2 separate regions of the Homo sapiens genome follow, and region 2 is linked to region 1. A link means that fine-mapping ties the variant in region 1 to the expression of a gene that starts in the linked region. Tissue or cell type: skeletal muscle. Region 1 holds a variant in brackets; the other region holds the start of a gene. All regions are shown on one strand. Distances are from middle to middle.

What was found. PIP is the estimated chance that this variant, and not a neighbour inherited with it, causes the effect.
Region 2: it holds the start of CERS3-AS1, and the variant in region 1 is fine-mapped to the expression of CERS3-AS1 in skeletal muscle (GTEx, PIP above 0.99).

What each region holds. Positions count from the first base shown.
Region 1 is chr15:100,482,016-100,490,015 of GRCh38, forward strand. It overlaps CERS3 (ceramide synthase 3), which reads right to left. Exons shown (of 12, transcript NM_001378789.1): 5 at 2,535-2,653. Among named protein-coding and RNA genes, the nearest start is that of CERS3, 43 kb to the right of the region's middle. The variant C/T (reference allele first, on the strand shown) is at 4,243.
Region 2 is chr15:100,368,451-100,379,712 of GRCh38, forward strand. CERS3-AS1 (CERS3 antisense RNA 1) reads left to right here and starts at 4,489. Exons shown (of 5, transcript NR_120374.1): 1 at 4,489-4,542.

The DNA.
Region 1 (8,000 bases):
GTTTTCACTTCGAATACAGTAAATACCAATAGGTATAACACACACAAATGCTCTTTGGCATTTCCAAGAGTTTTTCAGAGACCAAGGGGTCTTGACACCAAAAAGTTGGAGAATTGCTGCACTTCACTGAAAAGATGAATGATAATATCCTTGTCAATGTCATTTCACTAGTTTCACCTAAGAGTAAAACTTCTTTTATTTTTTTCCAGGAAAGAATGAGATAAACATAAACGTGGGGGGAGAGAAAACCCACTGAAAAGCCATTCAGAAACGAATTGGTTGGGTAACAATGGTGATAGTGAAAGGAGGGACTGCAGGGTGCAGCCAGGGAGGAATGGGCAGAGTGGTGAGAGACACTGCTGGGGCCAGATGGGAGGCCTGTGGTGGGGACGCTGCATAGAGTGGGCCGTGGACTGCATGGATCAGATGAGGGTAAGGCCGCATCCACCCAGCCGGGGAGAGCCCTTTCTCCAACACTGAGGAGTTCTCCTACCTGGATACCTAAGGACTTGGTGTTCCTTCTTATTGCTAGGTGGAAATCTGTATTTTAAAATGAAAAAGTGGTCAGCTAATGTGGAATTTGATTTTTTTTTTTTAAAAAAAAGGGCCCATTATGTATTAAAATCCTGAATGCTGTGGAATAGAGCACAAGGGTCACCATGAGAGAAAGTCACCAAGGAACAAACACACTGAACCCAACGTGCCTGGGGGCTCATCCCTCTGGATGTTACAAAGGAATTTTTGCCTGTTGGAAAGTAATTTTAGGAGCTGGGGTTAAGAAATAAGCGCCCGGAGATTTTCAAAAGGCTTGAGGTTAGGTAACTCATGCTGTGATTTCTGTAGCACATCCCACAGCTGATTTTTAAAAAGCAGAGTCCCTGTACAATTCAACATGGCACTAGGTTTAGTCTGTTTATCTAGTCCATAATAACTTTTAACTTAGAATAAACATGTGACATTGCTAAAGAATAAGATAAGGCTTAAATTTTATTCATGGGCCCACTTACTGTGTCCTGAATATATTGCATAATTTCCTGCTTTGTGTCTTTGCTTTACTTGAAAATACTGCCTCAAACCTGCTTTCTTTTCTTTTGGCAACCTGACCCATTCTTCAAGGTCCAACCTATGTCTTCCCTTCTCTAGAAAGCCTTTCTTTAACTACTTCAGCCATGCTGATGCCATCACCTCTAAATTCCCACGACACATCTAAACATGATGTTGTATCTGCTGGTGTACACTCCCATGTGCCACTGGGGTGGCGCGACAATAGATGTTGTGGTTTCGTGTGTGATAATCTGGCCTCCCTAATTCACTGTTTAAGGCCGGTAACCACGACTCACATGTTACCCCCTTCTTAAAATCTAGAACGCCACAAAATCTAGGACAGTGCTATGCACAGAAAAGATACTAACCTGTACCTCTGCATTGCCTGACTGATTGATAAGGGTAACTCAAAATTCCCTTCTCCAGCCTGAACTCTGGAAGAATTTTAGTAGGCTTACTGACATGGCCAGATGCCCAAATATTACTCAATTTAAGGATCCTCTGCTTGCTGGGAGGTAAGCATTAGGTGCCAGGGGCAGTATGATACAACAAGAAATAGTATCGGAATAGGAGTCAGAAGATCTGAATGCAACAGCCATTCAAACACCTAAGAGACCCTTAAACTAGATGGATGTGCAGTTTCTCATTGAAACAGGATAGCCCCAACTTCCCTGACTGTCTCACATCATTGGCAGAAGGATCAATAATAATAATAATTATTATTATTATTTTTTTTTTTGAGACAGAGTCTTGCTCTGTCACCCAGGCTGGAGTGCAGTGGCGGGATCTCGGCTCACTGCAAGCTCCGCCTCCCAGGTTCACGCCATTCTCCTGCCTCAGCCTCCCGAGTAGCTGGGACTACAGGCGCCCGCCACCACGCCCAGCTAATTTTTTGTATTTTTAGTAGAGATGGGGTCTCACCATGGTCTTGATCTCCTGACCACCTCTACTAAAAATCCTGGGAAACCAAGAGGATGGGCTGTGCACCCTACAGGAGGGCTGGGGTCATGAGCCACGCCACACAGAGAGGCCTTCTCAGTGTTCTGAGAGGGAACACACGTCCTTGCAGACATTCTCTGCTCTTACAGTTGTGATGGTTGGATACAGGTGATAAAGTCTGGTGACTTAGGGCCAACCCTGACCCTAAGAAAAGAGAAACACCAGTTAAGACATTTTTATGATTTTTTCTGGGTTTCAGGCTGAGTACATAACATCTCCTGTTCATCTTAGAGAGTTCATAGTGTGGGAGTCTGTCTGAATCTATTCTGGTTCGGGAGGCCCGATAAATAGAGTTCAGAGCTTACTTGATTTATAAAGGAGTGGAGGAAGCAGAGAAGGCAAATATGTGAGGAGCCTAAAACACCACATCAGTGGGTGACAGAGCTGGGTCTGAACCCTCCCTCTGCTGCTCCGGCAGTATTCTCTCTGCAAGGACCACTCAGCTCCAGATAGGACGGCAGCATTCCTAAAGCTTGGCCCATCCTCCTTACCAAGCTTCCTGGAATTTCTTCAGCCTGGAAGGCCTCTCTTGATTCCGCCGACTCCTAAACCATCTTTCCACCTGGCGCTCCGTCAAGTTACACTTCTTTGCCAGTCCATAAATATCAGTCTGAAAAGGGATGAAACGCATAAATGAGTGATAAAGAACAGAGTCAGACTGGCAGGCAGACAAGAGACGGAGATTGAGTTACAAGAGCTTCGGTACTGGGGATGAGAGAAATTCTGTCATGAGACCTGGAGCCAGGGAATTTACCTCTTTTGCTTATGGAATCACATATATGCACACATACCAAAAAACAAAATGTTACTATCCCAGCTCTCTAAGTTACTGAGAAAGATCAATTCTCCATACGCTGGCAGCAACCCGGCATTCAAGTTGCATGTGTGAGCTCACTTGTTCAGCTAAAATGTGCTTAGGACTTCCCAGGCGCCAGGTAGAGTAGCATAGTTTAAATCAAATCCAATAAAATCCAATCTCCTCATTTTTCCTATGGGGAACTGAAGCCCCAAGAAGTTCAGTGACTTGTCCAAAACCTAAAATTAGAAGCAAAGTGTGGACGAGAACTTAGGCTAGTGCATTTTGTTATTTCACATGATCTTTCTCACAGCTCCAGAAGATAATGCAGGAAAAACTCCAACCAGTGTTAGCCATCCACTTTTACATTTAATTATATAGAGAGCCTATTTCAAACTAATCCAAAATAATTTCAATAACAAAAATAACAATTGCAAAATATGATGATGATGATTGCTTCTCTTTTGGGAAGTAGAAGTTGTAGGCTATGATTTAAAATTGGAAACAATATGAATGATAGATCTGCTCAAATGTTACCAATTCGAAGGTCTCCCCAAGCCAGACAAGAAACATAAATGACCAAATGGACCAGGTCTGTTTCACAGTGGGATTTTAACATAGGCAAGTTTTGTACTTTAAACCTATGGTAACCTTCTCCACGTCTACAAAGAAATATGCTCATAAAAAATGCCAGCCCTCTTGATTTCTTATTTCCCAAGTAAGAATAAGAAATATTTCTGGCTGGGTGTGGTGGTTCACGCCTGTAATCCCAGCACTTTGGGAGGCCGAGAAGGCGGTCAGGAGTTCGAGATCTGCCTGGCCAATATGGTGAAACCCCATCTCTACTAAAAATACAAAAATTAGCTGGGCGTGGTGGTGGGCTCCTGTGATCCCAGCTACTCAGGAGGCTGAGGCAGGAGACTTGCTGGAATCTTGGGGGCAGAGGTTGCAGTGAACCAAGATTGTGACACTGTACTCCAGCCTGGGCGACAGAGAAGGACTCCATCTCTAAATAAATAAATACATAAATAAATAAAAGAAACATTTCCATTTCCTCTTAATTCTATTTTGTGAAAAATAAAATGGCATAAAACTGACCTTCAGCTTCAGTGCTGAGGAAAGAAGTGGGAGCCGTATGGATACAGCAGGCAGAGAAGCACACATCATGTCCCAAAAGGCCAGGCATGACCAAGATCTGGCGGACGCTTCCAGAGAAAACGTGCAGACCCAGGATTTTGATGAGAAATCACTAGGTTTTTAAAAATGTTGACCAATCCCTCAAAGTAAATTTAAACCAATTGTGGATGAGTATTGTGAGGGCCAAATAAAGCCTGCCTGTGGGCCAGATGGCTGAATACCCAAAAGTCTGTGACCAGCCGGATAGCTTCTGCTAGATTATCTTA[C/T]ATGTTCCCTTGCAGGAAGGAAAGAACACTGCAGTGTCAAAGCAATCGGATATGGTAGGAAGGGCAGGAAGCTGAAAACAGAAGATCCAGTTCTGCTACCTCCTAGCTATGTAGGCGTAAGCACCGCACTTTGACCCCCATGGAAAATGGGATATTAAGAGAATGTTTGCTACCCACCTCCGAGGGATGATTTGAGGACCAAGGGATTAGAATGTGCTAATGAAACTACTGAGTGCCGTGTCAGTGCTAGAGATTTTGATGACCAAACACAGAAAGGAAACCATGGACTACAAATCATTTAAGAAAAAAGTATTCCTTTACTTTTAACATAATTTGCAAACACGAACAGACCCCCAACATGGAGAATACAATTCAAATTCTGTTGGCTGGTGCACAGCAGGACATATTCTGGCATGCTGCTGCACTACACTCTGTGTGCTCAGACCGAAGGGGCTCTGGGCCTAGCTTTACTATTTCAAGTGTTTTGCCATTCATTCATTTGAAAGGATTTAAAGAGTCTCTAAGCACTGGTGCCAGGCACCATCTAGGTGTGGGAGATTCAGTAGTGAGCAAAACAAACTAAAGTCCTTGTCTTTATTCTGGAATATTCTCAGACCTTAGAACAACTCAATTTTATTCTCCCATGACTTCTGCAAATAATTGCCCAATGAATTATTAATAAACATATATAGAAGACAGTAACTGTTTATGAGTCGAAGCTTTTTTTTTCTATTTTGGAGTACAGAAGAATCTAGTTGGAAGTCAGTCTTGTCAATACTGGCCTCATGCACTATGATATTATTAAGAGAGAAAACTCCTTGCAAACAAAAGTGTCTAAAAGTGTTTTCTTGAATTAATGTGTGAAACATGAAGCATTTATTGACCATCTGTAATGACCAGAAAATAGTGCAAGATGTCATGGGAACAAAAACAAGCATGATTAAGAAACAAAGTGACAATTCCCTTGAGTGAGGAAGACATGCTTAAACACGCTCCTTTGGAAGTCAGTGCATGACAGGCACAAAGTTAATGGTACAAATAATAATAGCTGACCTTTACTGAGCATCTACTATGTGCCAAGCACTATTCTAAGCACTTTATATGTATTAACTCAATTTGATCCTCACAAGAGCCCTATGAGATAAGCAATATAATTATGCTCAATTCACAGAAGAGGAAACTGAGGCATGGGAAGTTTAATCTGTCCATCTCCACACAGAAAGTCGGTGACAGAGCCAGGCTCTAACCTTACATGGTCTGTCCTCACAATTTGTATTTTTAGCCTCTACACTACCTATTGCTGTGAACATTCAGAAGTGGGTTGGAACATGCAGGAAAGGTCTCTCTCAGACACAGCCTCAAGGAGAGGTCGAATGGCCTAAAGGAGGAGTGCTGAATGGGGCCAAGAGACCTGGCCTCTGGACTGAAAAGGGAACCCTCTGTGCCAGTAGAGGAGTCACCCTACCTCTTTGGCTCTCACATGTCTTCCCTGTACAATAAATAGCACTAGAAGAGGTTTTTGCTCTAAAAATGTTTGAATCTATGAATGACTCAAGCTAGCACACTGGAATACCTTTATTGAATGTAGTAACTGGCTTGAGTTCAGTCTCACAGTGCCACGTTTTCTTCAGATCTCTTCCAGAACTTACTTGCTCTGCATCAGTTCATATATATATAATTATTTTTTATTTTGCTAAGGAAAGGGCTAGATAATAAGTTCCACTGTTACTACACGTTACCTATAGCACTATAATTGATCTGTTGGTCAGAGTTGTTGGTCTTACCCCAAACATCTGGAAGTTGTTCTTGATACGCACACATACACACGTTATCAGACACACACCTGCATAGATACAATCATAAGAGAACTGTGCAATATCACAGACCAAAACTCTCACTGAGGCTCATGTGTATAGTATTTTAGGCCTCATCAATACCATGTTATGCCCTTCTGTGCTAACCAGCCCACAGTAGATGTCATATGCATGGAAGTGTTTTGTTTTCCTGGTGCAGCCTATAGCTGCTGAAGAAGCATCCTTGGGTCTGTGTACTCCATTGTTTCAATCAAGTCAGGTGTTATCTACAAATATTACCAATGCAATATTCTACTGTTTAGGTTTTGAATACTTTTTTTTAGTGGTAATACCCTAATCTTGAATCAGTACAAAACTGTTTTTCATCCACCCAGCAACTTGTCTTATTACCTCAGCCATAATTAAGCAAAGTGCTATCTGCATGACACTGGCCAGGTTAATGTGGTAGGTATGGTGAGACGAGTTTGTTTCTGTATCTGCAATTGCTATTAAGTCATGAACTCTGTCCTCCTGTATTACATTCTATCTTCCTAAGTCCTAGTGCTTTTAGGCTATGGACATTTTGCTGGCCAAATTATTGTTATCTTGATATACTATACGAATACTGCCTCAGTTTTTTAATCTCAGAGCAATATAATTTAGGAATCTTATATTCCTTCACCTTTTTGGTTCAATAGATGAAGCTAACACTTCGGGGGTGATATATAACTGTTTTTTTTTTTTTTAGATGGAGTCTCACTCTGTCACCAGGCTGGACTGTGGTGGCGCAATCTTGGCTCACTGCAACCTCCAACTCCCTGGTTCAAGCTGTCCTCCTGCCTCAGCCTCCCAAGTAGCTGGGATTACAGGCACTCGCCACCACGCCCAGCTAATTTTTGTATTTTTAGTAGAGACAGGGTTTCACCATGTTGGCCAGGATGGTCTCGATCTCCAGACCTCGTGATCCACCCACCTTGGGCTCCCAAAGTGCTGGGATTACAGGCGTAAGCCACTGCGCCCAGCCACTTTTTTTTTCCTTCTTACTGGATGCAAATGTCAAAATTCTGTCTTTATTAAACCATACTGTAATGTCAGTTGAGTTAGAATAATTACTATAAACACAGCACCAGTCTTTAAAATATATTTTTAACATTCCATTTACAGATAAAGAACTCACTGTAGCATGGTGGAAAGGTCACTGGACTGGAAGTATGGGCCAGGTTCTAGCTTTTGATTCAGCCACTCATTAGCCGAACGACCACTCATTTTCCTTTGGCTGGGCCTTAAGTTTCCTCATCTTAATCATGAAAAAGAAAGACTACCACCCTATAAACCTTTTCAGCTATCCTTAGTTTTCCTTTGGCCATTTTTTCTCCATAGCAGAGAAGCTTGGTAAGGACCAAATTTTCTAGATAATTTTAAATATTCTGAAAAGCTGACTAGAAGCTCTTAGCAATAGCAAGGATAGCAACGAATTGGTATTATAGCACTGTTCTTCCCATTTTATACAAAGTATTACTAAAGTTAGTTGTTCCCAAACAAAGAAGGATAATAAAGGACCCAGAAAGAGCCCTATCTTTTTTTAAACACAGCTAAATAATTTCCCATTTGAAACATATAAAGGGATGCTTAGGTATTATTATCACCAGTGGTAACAAAAGGATTTAGATGAATGATGGCAGTCATTTAAAGCACATGGGAATAAAAAACATATAAAGATGGCTTGTCAGACTATTCCTAGGTTACAAAAGCAGTCAAATACAGGAGCTGAGGGCAGAACAAGTTAGAGCCAGCTCTCACTTGCTATGAGCAATTCTGGACACCATATCTCACGCGAGGTGGTCAAACCTCAATGTGCTTTCATGTGCAGAGAAACCACGAGGAACAAATTAGAGCAATTGTCATAGTAGAGGCAACTTAATTCAGGAAATAAAGTTCAGGACCCTCAGAAATCTATTTATCCTA
Region 2 (11,262 bases), 110 kb before region 1:
TATCACCAGCGATCCCACAGAAATACAAACTACCATCAGAGAATACTATAAATACCTCTACCCAAATAAACTAGAAAATCTAGAAGAAATGGATAAATTCCTTAACACATACACCCTCCCAAGACTAAACCAGGAAGAAGTTGAATCTCTCAATAGACCAATAACAGGCTCTGAAATTGAGGCAATAATTAATAGCTTACCAACCACAAAGAGTCCAGGACCAGATGGATTCACAGCCGAATTCTACCAGAGGTACAAGGAGGAGCTGGTACCATTCCTTCTGAAACTATTCCAATCAATAGAAAAAGAGGGAATCCTCCCTAACTCATTTGATGAGGCCAGCATCATCCTGATACCAAAGCCAGGCAGAGACACAACCAAAAAAGAGAATTTTAGACCAATATCCTTGATGAACATTGATGCAAAAATGCTCAGTAAAATACTGGCAAACCGAATCCAGCAGCACATCAAAAAGCTTATCCACCATGATCAAGTGGGCTTCATCCCTGGGATGCAAGGCTGGTTCAATATATGAAAATCAATAAATTTAATACAGCACATAAACAGAACCAAAGACAAAAACCACATGATTATCTCAATAGATGCAGAAAAGGCCTTTGACAAAATTCAACAACTCTTCATGCTAAAAACTCTCAATAAATTAGGTATTGATGGGACGTATTTCAAAATAATAAGAGCTATCTATGACAAACCCACAGCCAATATCATACTGAATGGGCAAAAACTGGAAGCATTCCCTTCAAAAACTGGCACAAGACAGGGATGCCCTCTCTCACCACTCCTATTCAACATAGTGTTGGAAGTTCTGGCTAGGGCAATTAGGCAGGAGAAGGAAATAAAGGGTATTCAATCAGGAAAAGAGGAAATCAAATTGTCCCTGTTTGCAGATGACATGATTGTATATCTAGAAAACCCCATCGTCTCAGCCCAAAATCTCCTTAAGCTGATAAGCAATTCAGCAAAGTCGCAGGATACAAAATCAATGTACAAAAATCACAAGCATTCTTATACACCAATAACAGACAAACAGAGAGCCAAATCATGAGTGAACTCCCATTCACAATTGCTTCAAAGAGAATAAAATACCTAGGAATCCAACTTACAAGGGACGTGAAGGACCTCTTCAAGGAGAACTACAAACCACTGCTCAATGAAATAAAAGAGGATACCAACAAATGGAAGAACATTCCATGCTCATGGGTAGGAAGAATCAATATCATGAAAATGGCCATACTGCCCAAGGTAATTTATAGATTCAGTGCCATCTCCATCAAGCTACCAATGACTTTCTTCACAGAACTGGAAAAAACTACTTTAAAGTTCATATGGAACCAAAAGAGAGCCCACATCGCCAAGTCAATCCTAAGCCAAAAGAACAAAGCTGGAGGCATCATGCTACGTGACTTCAAACTATACTACAAGGCTACAGCAACCAAAACAGCATGGTGCTGGTACCAAAACAGAGATATAGATCAATGGAACAGAACAGAGTCCTCAGAAATAATGCCGCATATCTACAACTATCTGATCTTTGACAAACCTGAGAAAAACAAGCAATGGGGAAAGGATTCCCTATTTAATAAATAGTGTTGGGAAAACTGGCTAGCCATATGTAGAAAGCTGAAACTGGATCCCTTCTTTACACCTTATACAAAAATCAATTCAAGATGGATTAAAGACTTAAACGTTAGACCTAAAACCATAAAAACCCTAGAAGAAAACCTAGGCATTACCATTCAGGACATAGGCATGGGCAAGGACTTCATGTCTAAAACACCAAAAGCAATGGCAACAAAAGCCAGAATTGACAAATGGGATCGAATTAAACTAAAGAGCTTCTGCACAGCAAAAGAAACTACCATCAGAGTGAACAGGCAACCTACAAAATGGGAGAAAATTTTCGCAACCTACTCATCTGACAAAGGGCTAATATCCAGAATCTACAATGAACTCAAACAAATTTACAAGAAACAAACAAACAACCCCATCAAAAAGTGGGTGAAGGACATGAACAGACACTTCTCAAAAGAAGACATTTATGCAGCCAAAAGACACATGAAAAAATGCTCACCATCACTGGCCATCAGAGAAATGCAAATCAAAACCACAATGAGATACCATCTCACACCAGTTAGAATGGCGATCATTAAAAAGTCAGGAAACAACAGGTGCTGGAGAGGATGTGGAGAAATAGGAACACTTTTACACTGTTGGTGGGACTGTAAACTAGTTCAACGATTGTGGAAGTCAGTGTGGCGATTCCTCAGGGATCTAGAACTAGAAATACCATTTGACCCAGCCATCCTATTACTGGGTATATACCCAAAGGACTATAAATCATGCTGCTATAAAGACACATGCACATGTATGTTTATTGCAGCACTATTCACAATAGCAAAGACTTGGAACCAACCCAGATGTCCCACAATGATAGACTGGATTAAGAAAATGTGGCACATAGACACCATGGAATACTATGCAGCCATAAAAAATGATGAGTACATGTCCTTTGTAGGGACATGGATGAAATTGGAAATCATCATTCTCAGTAAACTATCACCAAGGACAAAAAAACCAAACACCACATGTTCTCACTCATAGGTGGGAATTGAACAATGAGAACACATGGACACAGGAAGGGGAATATCACACTCTGGGGACTGTTTTGGGGTGGGGGGAGGGGGGAGGGATAGCATTAGGAGATATACCTAATGCTAAATGAGAAGTTAATGGGTGCAGCACACCAGCATGGCACATGTATACATATGTAACTAACCGGCACATTGTGCACATGTACCCTAAAACTTAAAGTATAATAATAAAAAATAAATAAATAAATAAAAATAAATAAAGAAAGAAAAAGATATATAGATGGAAAATAAATTTTGACAGGTGCTCAATATCATTAACTAGTCTTTAGGGAAGTGCAAATTTAAAACTCCAATAAACTAACCACACTAAGTGTTGGTGAGGATGTGAAGGAATTGGAACTTTTTGTACATTACTGGTGAGAACATAAAATGGTACAACCACATTTTGGCAGCTTCTTAAAGAGTTAAACATCCACCTACCCAGCATATACCTATACAAAGACTTGTAAATGAATGATCATGACAGTTTTATTTGTAATATCCCCAAATGCAAGCAATCCAAATGCTGAACAGGTAAACAGACAAGCAGAGTGTAGAATATAGAATATACAATGGAATAAACAATTATGAACTAGGTATACCTGCAACGATATAAATGAATCTCAGAATAACTATTGAGTAGGGGAAGCCAGACTGAAGGAAAGAACGGATGTTCCTTTTTATGGCCGCTTAGCATTCCATGGTGTATAGGTACCACATTTTCTTCATCCAATCCACTGCTGATGGGCATCTAGGTTGATTCCATGTCTTTGCTATTGTAAACAACGCTTTGATGAACATATGGGTGCACGTGCCTTTTTGATAAAATGACTTACTTGCCTTTGGGTATATACCTAGTAATGGATTGCTGGGTCGAATAGCAGTTCTAAGTGCTTTCAGAAATCTCCAAACTGCCTTCCACAGTGGCTGAACTAGTTTTTATTCCCAGCAAGTGTATAAGGGTTCCCTCTTCCCCGCAGCCTCACAAGCATTGGTTGTTTATTGACTTTTTCATAATCGCCATTCTGACCGGTGTGAGACGTTATCTCATTGTGGTCATGTCCTTCGCAGCAACATGGATGGCAGCCATTGTCCTAAGGAATTAACCCAAGAATGGGAAACCAAATAACGCATGTTCTCACTTATAAGTGGGACCTAAACATTGAATACACATAGACATAAAGATGGGAGCAGCAGACACTGGGGACGACTAGGGAGGGAGGGAGGCAGGGAGGGAGTGGAACAGAACGTGGGCTGAAAAACTACTACTCACTACCTGGGTGACTGGATCATCTGTACCCCAACCTTCAGCACCCTGCAATATACTCATGAAACAAACCTGCACATGTACCCTTTAATCTAAAATAAAAGTTGAAATTGTTTTTTTAAAAAAGAGCACATAGTATATTATTCCATTTACATAAAATTTTAGAAAACACAAATGAATGTGTTGACAAATCAGTGGTTGCCTGGAGAAGGGGGAGTGCAGAGAGGTACATGGGGAATAAATTATAAAGGGACTGGAGGAGATGTTTGGAGGTGGTGAATGTGTTCACTATGTTGATTGCGGTGATGATTTCATGGACGTACACATCTGTAGAAACGTTGGTGTGTACATATGTTGTATTCTCAAATTGTCCACTCTGAGTACGAGCAGTGGGGATTAAGAGGAAAATAATAGTAGAGAACAAAATCAGAGCTTGGCATGGCTCTCTGCTGGCACCGTGCAGGGTGTGATTACATCAGATCTGTGCAACTCAGATCTTGGGGAGGGGTTGGGGGGTGGAAGGTGGAGGGAGGAAGGGAGAGAAAACAGAGGGCGGGAAGAAGGGAAGGAAGTGAAGAAGGGAATGAGGGACGGAAAGAGAGAGACAGCGAAGAGAGGAGAAAGGTGAGTGCATTCTGGAAATCACCGGCAGCTCCGCTCCGCAGAAAGGCCTTGGCCTGTGCCATCTGAGGGTGAAGTTACGTGGTTATCAAATTCCCCTTCCCTGGAGCCCCTGGCAAGAAGTTGATGCCAGAAACAGACGGAGGGGGTGCGAGGAGGGAGGGAATCAGACCTTTTGTTTCTCTTTTTCCCCCTAGGACCTGGTCTCATGCTTCTCCCCCTCATCTCTCCCAGGGCACCCCTCCGACCCCCGCTGCGAGGGGTTTCCCGCGGGAGGTGGACGAAGCGTGGGCCAGGACAGGCGCCTGGCACTGGGGTTTCAGAGCCGCGAGTAGGCCCTGAAGGCCGGGAGGGACCGCCAGTCCCCACTGGAAGCCGCTTCCGTGCAGCCCGGGACAGGTGCGCGGCGCCCCTCGCCTTCGCCTCCGCTTCTGCTCTTCCCCTCGCGGCCCCGCGCGCCCGCGCCCTCCGCCCAGACCCCGGTGCAGCCCGGCCAGGCGCGGCGGCGGCGGCGTCTCCAGCGAGGGAAGGTCGTCCTCACGCGCTCCGGCCTCAGGGCGCCTCTCCGCCCGGCCTCGCAGCCTTCCCGTCCTGCCCACGGCCGAGGCCGCGGCTGTCGGGGTGGCCTGGACGGGTGCAGGGCTGGGCGGGGGCGGCAGGACTTGAACCGGCGCCTGCTCTCGCGGAGGCAGCAGCAGAGCTCACCCCTTTCTCGGGAAATGGTTTATCGTGGATAAAACGCAGTCCCCAAAGCGAAGGTCCGACGGGCGGCCAGACGCACCCCGGGGACCTTCAGGTGGACACACGGGGCCTCCGCGCGCCGAGCCGCGAGGGAAGAGGGGCGGCGGGAGGGAGGGAGCAGTGGGCGGCCGGGGAGCCTGGCAGAAGAGTGGGGGCGAGCAGGGAAGGAGGGGCGTCGGGAGGCGGGGGGAGGGGCGGTGAGGACCCCAGTGGGGTGGGGGCGGGGTGGAGCCGAGAAGAGCCGGGAGAGTGGGGACCCTCTGGCCACTCCAGAAAGACCTACTGGATCTCCTCTCCTGCCCTCGCTCACCCTTACCCTCTGTCTCCCATTCACTCTTCGGTTTGCTCTGGTGATTCATTCTCTCTCTCTTTCTCCTTCCCTCCCTCCCTCCCTGTCTCTCCCTCCCTCCCTCTCTCTCCCTCCCTCCCTCTCTCTCCCTCTCTCCCTCCTTCCCCCACCCAATCCTGGGCTGCTGCGTGAGCTTTACACTGAGGTGCCCAAACCAGCGCAGTCGTGGTGCCTGCAGAGGCTGGACTAGCCCCTGCAGGTGACCACAGACTCTCTGCAGTAACCCCCAGCCAGGCATTTTCCTGAGCACTCTCATCAGAAGGACCACATTTGGTCACTCTGTTCTTGGATGTCCCTCTTGTGCCGGAAGCCCATAATTTGACTTGATTTGTTGAATTGCTCCCGATTGTTTTTTTTTCTTAATTCTAAGAGATAGGTATAATGAGATGGTTGTCATGGCCCATTTAATAGAATCAGGGACCAAAAGACACCCATCCCATCGTTCAACTTCCCATCTATTTTCTCACCCTAGCAGGGTTTCTTCGCTGGATGGGGAAAGGAGCTGACCCATCCTTACCACCCCCCTAATTCCTTTATTAGCACCTAAAAAGAAATGAGGATCAAGCCATGAAAAGACATGAGGAACCTTAAGTGTATATTATTAAATAACAGAAGCCAATCTGAAAACTACATGCTGTATGATTCCAACTATAGGAGATTCTGGAAAAGGCAAAACTATGGAGGCAGTAAAGAATTTTGAGACAGGATTTCATTCTGTCACCCAGGCTGGAGTGCAGTGGCACGATCGTGGTTCACTGTACCCTCGACCTCCTGGACTCAGATGATCCTCCCACCTCAGCCTCCTGAGACTACAGGCACGTGCCACCATGCCTGCCTCATTTTTTGTAGAGATGCGGATTTGCCATGTTGCCCAGACTGGTCGCAAACTCCTGGACTCAAGCAATCCACTTGCCTCGGCCTCCCAAAGTGCTGGGATTATAGGTGTGAGCCATTGCTCCTGGCCTCTTGTTGAGTTTTAAGAGTTCTTTCTATATATTGGATAACAGTCCTTTATCAGATATATCTTTTACAAACATTTTCTCCCAGTCTGTAGCTTGTCTTCTGATTTTCTTGACAGTGTCTTTCTCAGAGTAGAAGTTTTTAAAAGTCCAGCTTATCAATTATTTCTTTGATGGATTGTATCTTGGGTGTTGTATCCAAAAAGTCATCTTCAAACCCAAGGTTATCTAGACCTTCTCTTATGTTATCTGCTAGGAGTTTTATATTTTTGCGTTTTACGATTAGGTCTATGATTAATTTTGAGTTAATTTTTGTGAAGGGTGTAAGGTCTGTGTGTAGACTCACTATTTTGCTTGTGGATATCTAGTTGTCCCAGCACTATTTGTTGAAGAAAAACTGTCTTTTCGCCATTGTATTGCCTTTGCTCGTTTGTCAAAGATAAGTTGACTATGTTAGTGTGGGTCTGTTTCTGGGCTCTGTACTATTCCATTAATCTGTTTGTCTATTTTACCAATACCACACTGTCTTGAGTATTGTACCTTTATAGTAAGTCTTGAGACTGGGTAGTGTCAATCATCTGACTTTGTTCTCCTTCAGTATTTTTATGGCTACTGTGGGTCTTTTGCTTCCCATATAAACTTTAGAATCAGTTTGTCAATATCCACAAAATAACTTGCTGAGATTTTGATTGGGATTGCGTTGAGTCTGTAGATTGAGTTGAGAAGAACTGACATCTTGACAATAATGCATCTTCCTATCTGTGAACATGGAATATCGCTCCGTATATTTAGTACTTTGATTTATTTCATCAGAGTTTTGTACTTTTCCTCATACAGATCTTATACGTATTTTGTTAGACTTAAACCTAAGTATTTCATTGTGTGGGGGTGCTAAATGGTACATGTTTTTAATGTCAAATTCCACTTGTTCATTACTGGTATATAAGAAAGTGATAGACTTTTGTATATTAACCTTATATACTGTAAACTTGCTATAATCACTTCTTATAGGCTTTTTTTTGTCAATTCTTTCTGATTTTCTCCATAGATGATCATGTCATCTGAGCGCAAAGACAGTTTCTTTCTTTCTTCCCAATTCAATTATCTTTTATTTCCTTTTCTTGTCTTATTTCATAAGCTAGGACTTCCAGTATTATGTTAAATAGCAGTTGTGAGAGGGGACATCCTTGACTTTTTCCTGATCTTAGCAGGAGAACTTCTAATTTCTCACCATTGAGTATAATTTTACCTGCAGGATTTTTTTTTTTGGATGTCCTTTATCAAGTTAAAGAAGTTCTCCTTTCTTCCTAGTTTGCTGAGAATTCAGGATAATTTGATTGGGGTATAATTACAAGCAGTAAAATGAACACATCTTAAGTGTTCATTTGAACATTTTGAGAGTGGTATTCACTCAGGTAACCACAACTCCAAATAAGACACAGAACATTTCTATCACTTAAAAAGTTTCATAATTTCCCAGTCAATTCTCCCCATCTCAAAAAAAACCACTTTCTAATTGCTATAATCTAAGATTATTTTTGCCTGTGTTTGGACATTGTACAAATTATTCCATGCAATAGGTATCGTCTCTGACATCTTTTAGCCAACATGATATTTTGGAGATTCATCCATGTTGCAGTATGTATCACTTGTTTATTCTTTTATATTACAGAGTAGATTCCATTGTATAAATATACTTTGATTTATTTATCAGTTCTCCTTGATGGACATTTGAAAATATATTCAGTGTTTGGCTATTATAATGATGCCGTTTGATGAGCAGAGACTTGTTAATTTAACATTTTACTTCATAGTTAGTGCTTTTTGCATCCAATCTAAAAAATCTTTATCTACATCAAAGTCTCAAACATATGTTCTTATGTTTTATTGTAGTTTTATTGTTTTAGCTTTTACATTCAGGTCTATGATCCATTTCTTTTTTTTTTTCTGTTCTGTACAAGGTTGTAATACTTTTTTTTTAATTTTTATTTTATTATACTTTAAGTTCTAGGGTACATGTGCACAACTTGCAGGTTTGTTACATATGTATACATGTGCCATGTTGGTGTGCTGCACCCATTAACTCATCATTTACATTAGGTATATCTCCTAATGCTATCCCTCCCCCCTCCCCCCACCCCACAACAGGCCCCGGTGTGTGATGTCCCCCTTCCTGTGTCCAAGTGTTCTCATTGTTCAATTCCCACCTATGAGTGAGAACAAGCGATGTTTGGTTTTTTGTCCTTGCGATAGTTTGCTGAGAATGATGGTTTCCAGCTTCATCCATGTCCCTACAAAGGACATGAACTCATTCTATGATCCATTTCAAATTAATTTTTGTCTCTGGTGTGAGTAGAGGCTAAGGTTCACAGCAACTTCTGTCTCCCAGGCTCAAGCGATCCTCCAGTCTCAGCCTCCTGAGTAGCTGGGACTACAGGCATGTGCCCCCATGCCCAGCTATTTTTTTTTTTTTTGTATTTTTGGTAGAGGTGGGGTTACACCATATTGCCCAGACTAGTCTCGAGCTCCTGAGCTCAAGCCATCCACCCACCTTGGCCTCCCAAAGTGCTGGGATTATAGGCATGAGCCACTGCGCCTGGCCTATTTCATAGATTCTAAGATGCATTTCTTTTTTTTTCTCATTTTAGCATCTCTGAGGTTGGGGTGCATCTTAACATCATTGTCCACAAACTGTCCTGTGCTGTCATTTTCCCTGTGTCTGAACAAACTTGGTAGTTACACCCGTGACTTGATTGGGTGACCTCAACCTTTGATGTTTCAGTCAATGAACCATTCAGGCATCATTGAGATCATTTTCATCTTGCTTATTTTCCTGAACATCTTTCTGTGAAAATCAAACAAGTCCAAGGATCAAACTCCCAGGTGTCAACAGCTTGGAAGGGTTCCACACACTTTTAAGAAATTTTCTGGCCAGGCACGGTGGCTCATGCCAGGAATCTCAACACTTTGGGAGGCTGAGGTGGGCAGATAGCTTGACGCCAGAAATTCAAGACCAGCCTGGGCAACATGGCAAAAGCCTGTCTCTGTGGAAAATACAAAAATTAGCCAGGCGTGGTGGTGTGCGCCTGTAATCCCAGCTACTCAGGAGGCTGAGGCAGGAGAATCGCTGGAACCTGGGAGGCAGAGCCTGCAGTGAGCTGAGATCGCGCCACCGTACTCCAGACCGAGCGACAGAGCAAGACTCGGTCTCAAGAAAAGAAAAAAAAAAAATGCAACTGAAGGAAACCTAGTGTGCAGAAATGTTTTGAAGAAAACTTCAAAAAAAAATTCTATTAGTCTTAAAGATATGAGAAGATATTACATCCATTAAAGAAGAATAATTTACCATAAAAAATTCAAACAATGAAAAGGGCTCTTAAAAATTTAAAACATGGCTGGGCACAGTGGCTCACACCTGTAATCCCAGCACTTCGGGAGGCCGAGGCAGGCAGATGACCTCAGGTCAGGAATTTGAGACCAGGCTGGCCAACAGGGTGAGACCCCATCTCTACTAAAAATACAAAAAATTAGCTGGGCATGGTGGTGTGAGCCTGTAATCTCAGCTACTTGGGAGGCTGAGGCAGGAGAATTGCTTGAACCCAGTAGGCGGAGGTTGCAGTGAGCCGAGAAAAGAAAAAGAAAAAAGAAATTTGTGAGAGCTGAGCATAAGCCACACTAAATGCACACACAGGAAATATTAATACGTATTAGTTATGTTTTGAGGGCATATGTTCACAAATACAAAACCTCTGGGGAGGCTGAGGCGGGTGGATCATGAGGTCTGGAGTTCAAGACTAGCCTGGCCAACACAGTGAAACCCCCTCTCTACTAAAAATACAAAAATTAGCTGGGCGTGGTGGCAGGTACCTGTAGTCCCAGCTACTCGGGAGGCTGAGGTGGGAGAATTGCTTGAACTCGGGAGGCAGAGGTTACAGTGAGCCAAGATTGTGCCACCACGCTCCAGCCTGGGTGACAGAGCAAGACTCTGCCTTTTCTTTCTCAAAAATCCCTGGAGTCTGCCTTTGCTTCAGAAATTAGTTTATCCAGCTATACTTGATGGAAAACCCAGTGTTTCAGTAGCAGAAAGAGCTTTGTGGTGTAAGCCATTCTAGAATAAGTAGACAGGCTAGGGGTCTCTTCCGTGGGATGCCAGTTAGCTGTGTCCCAAAGACAGACCTCAAAGACTCCATCCCAGGGACACAATGCCTCTCCCGAAGCTAGGACTCTGGAATCAGGACACAGGTTGCTCTCTCTGGACATATTTCTCTAAGTAAACAAGTTGCTCTTCCTTAGAGTAGCTGTTGTGTTGCTGTATTCCCATCACATTCCCAGGGGTGTGAAATAGTAGACTCTCCAGTCTACTAGAGATGGGGCCATTTTCTCAGCAACACTTGCTTGTTATATCCTGTTAAAAAATCTTAACGTAGAAAAATGGGCAAAACATAAATGTATAACTCCATGAACAACTGCAAAGTGAAAACATATATAGTCAATATACATATTTTAAAAAATAAAACATTGTGGGCGGGCACGGTGGCTCACATCTGTAATCCCAGCACTTTGGGAGGCCGAGGCAGGCGGATCACCTAAGGTCGGAAGTTCGAGACCAGCCTGCCCAACATGGAGAAACCCTAACTCTACTAAAAATACAAAATTAGCCGGCATGGTGGCACA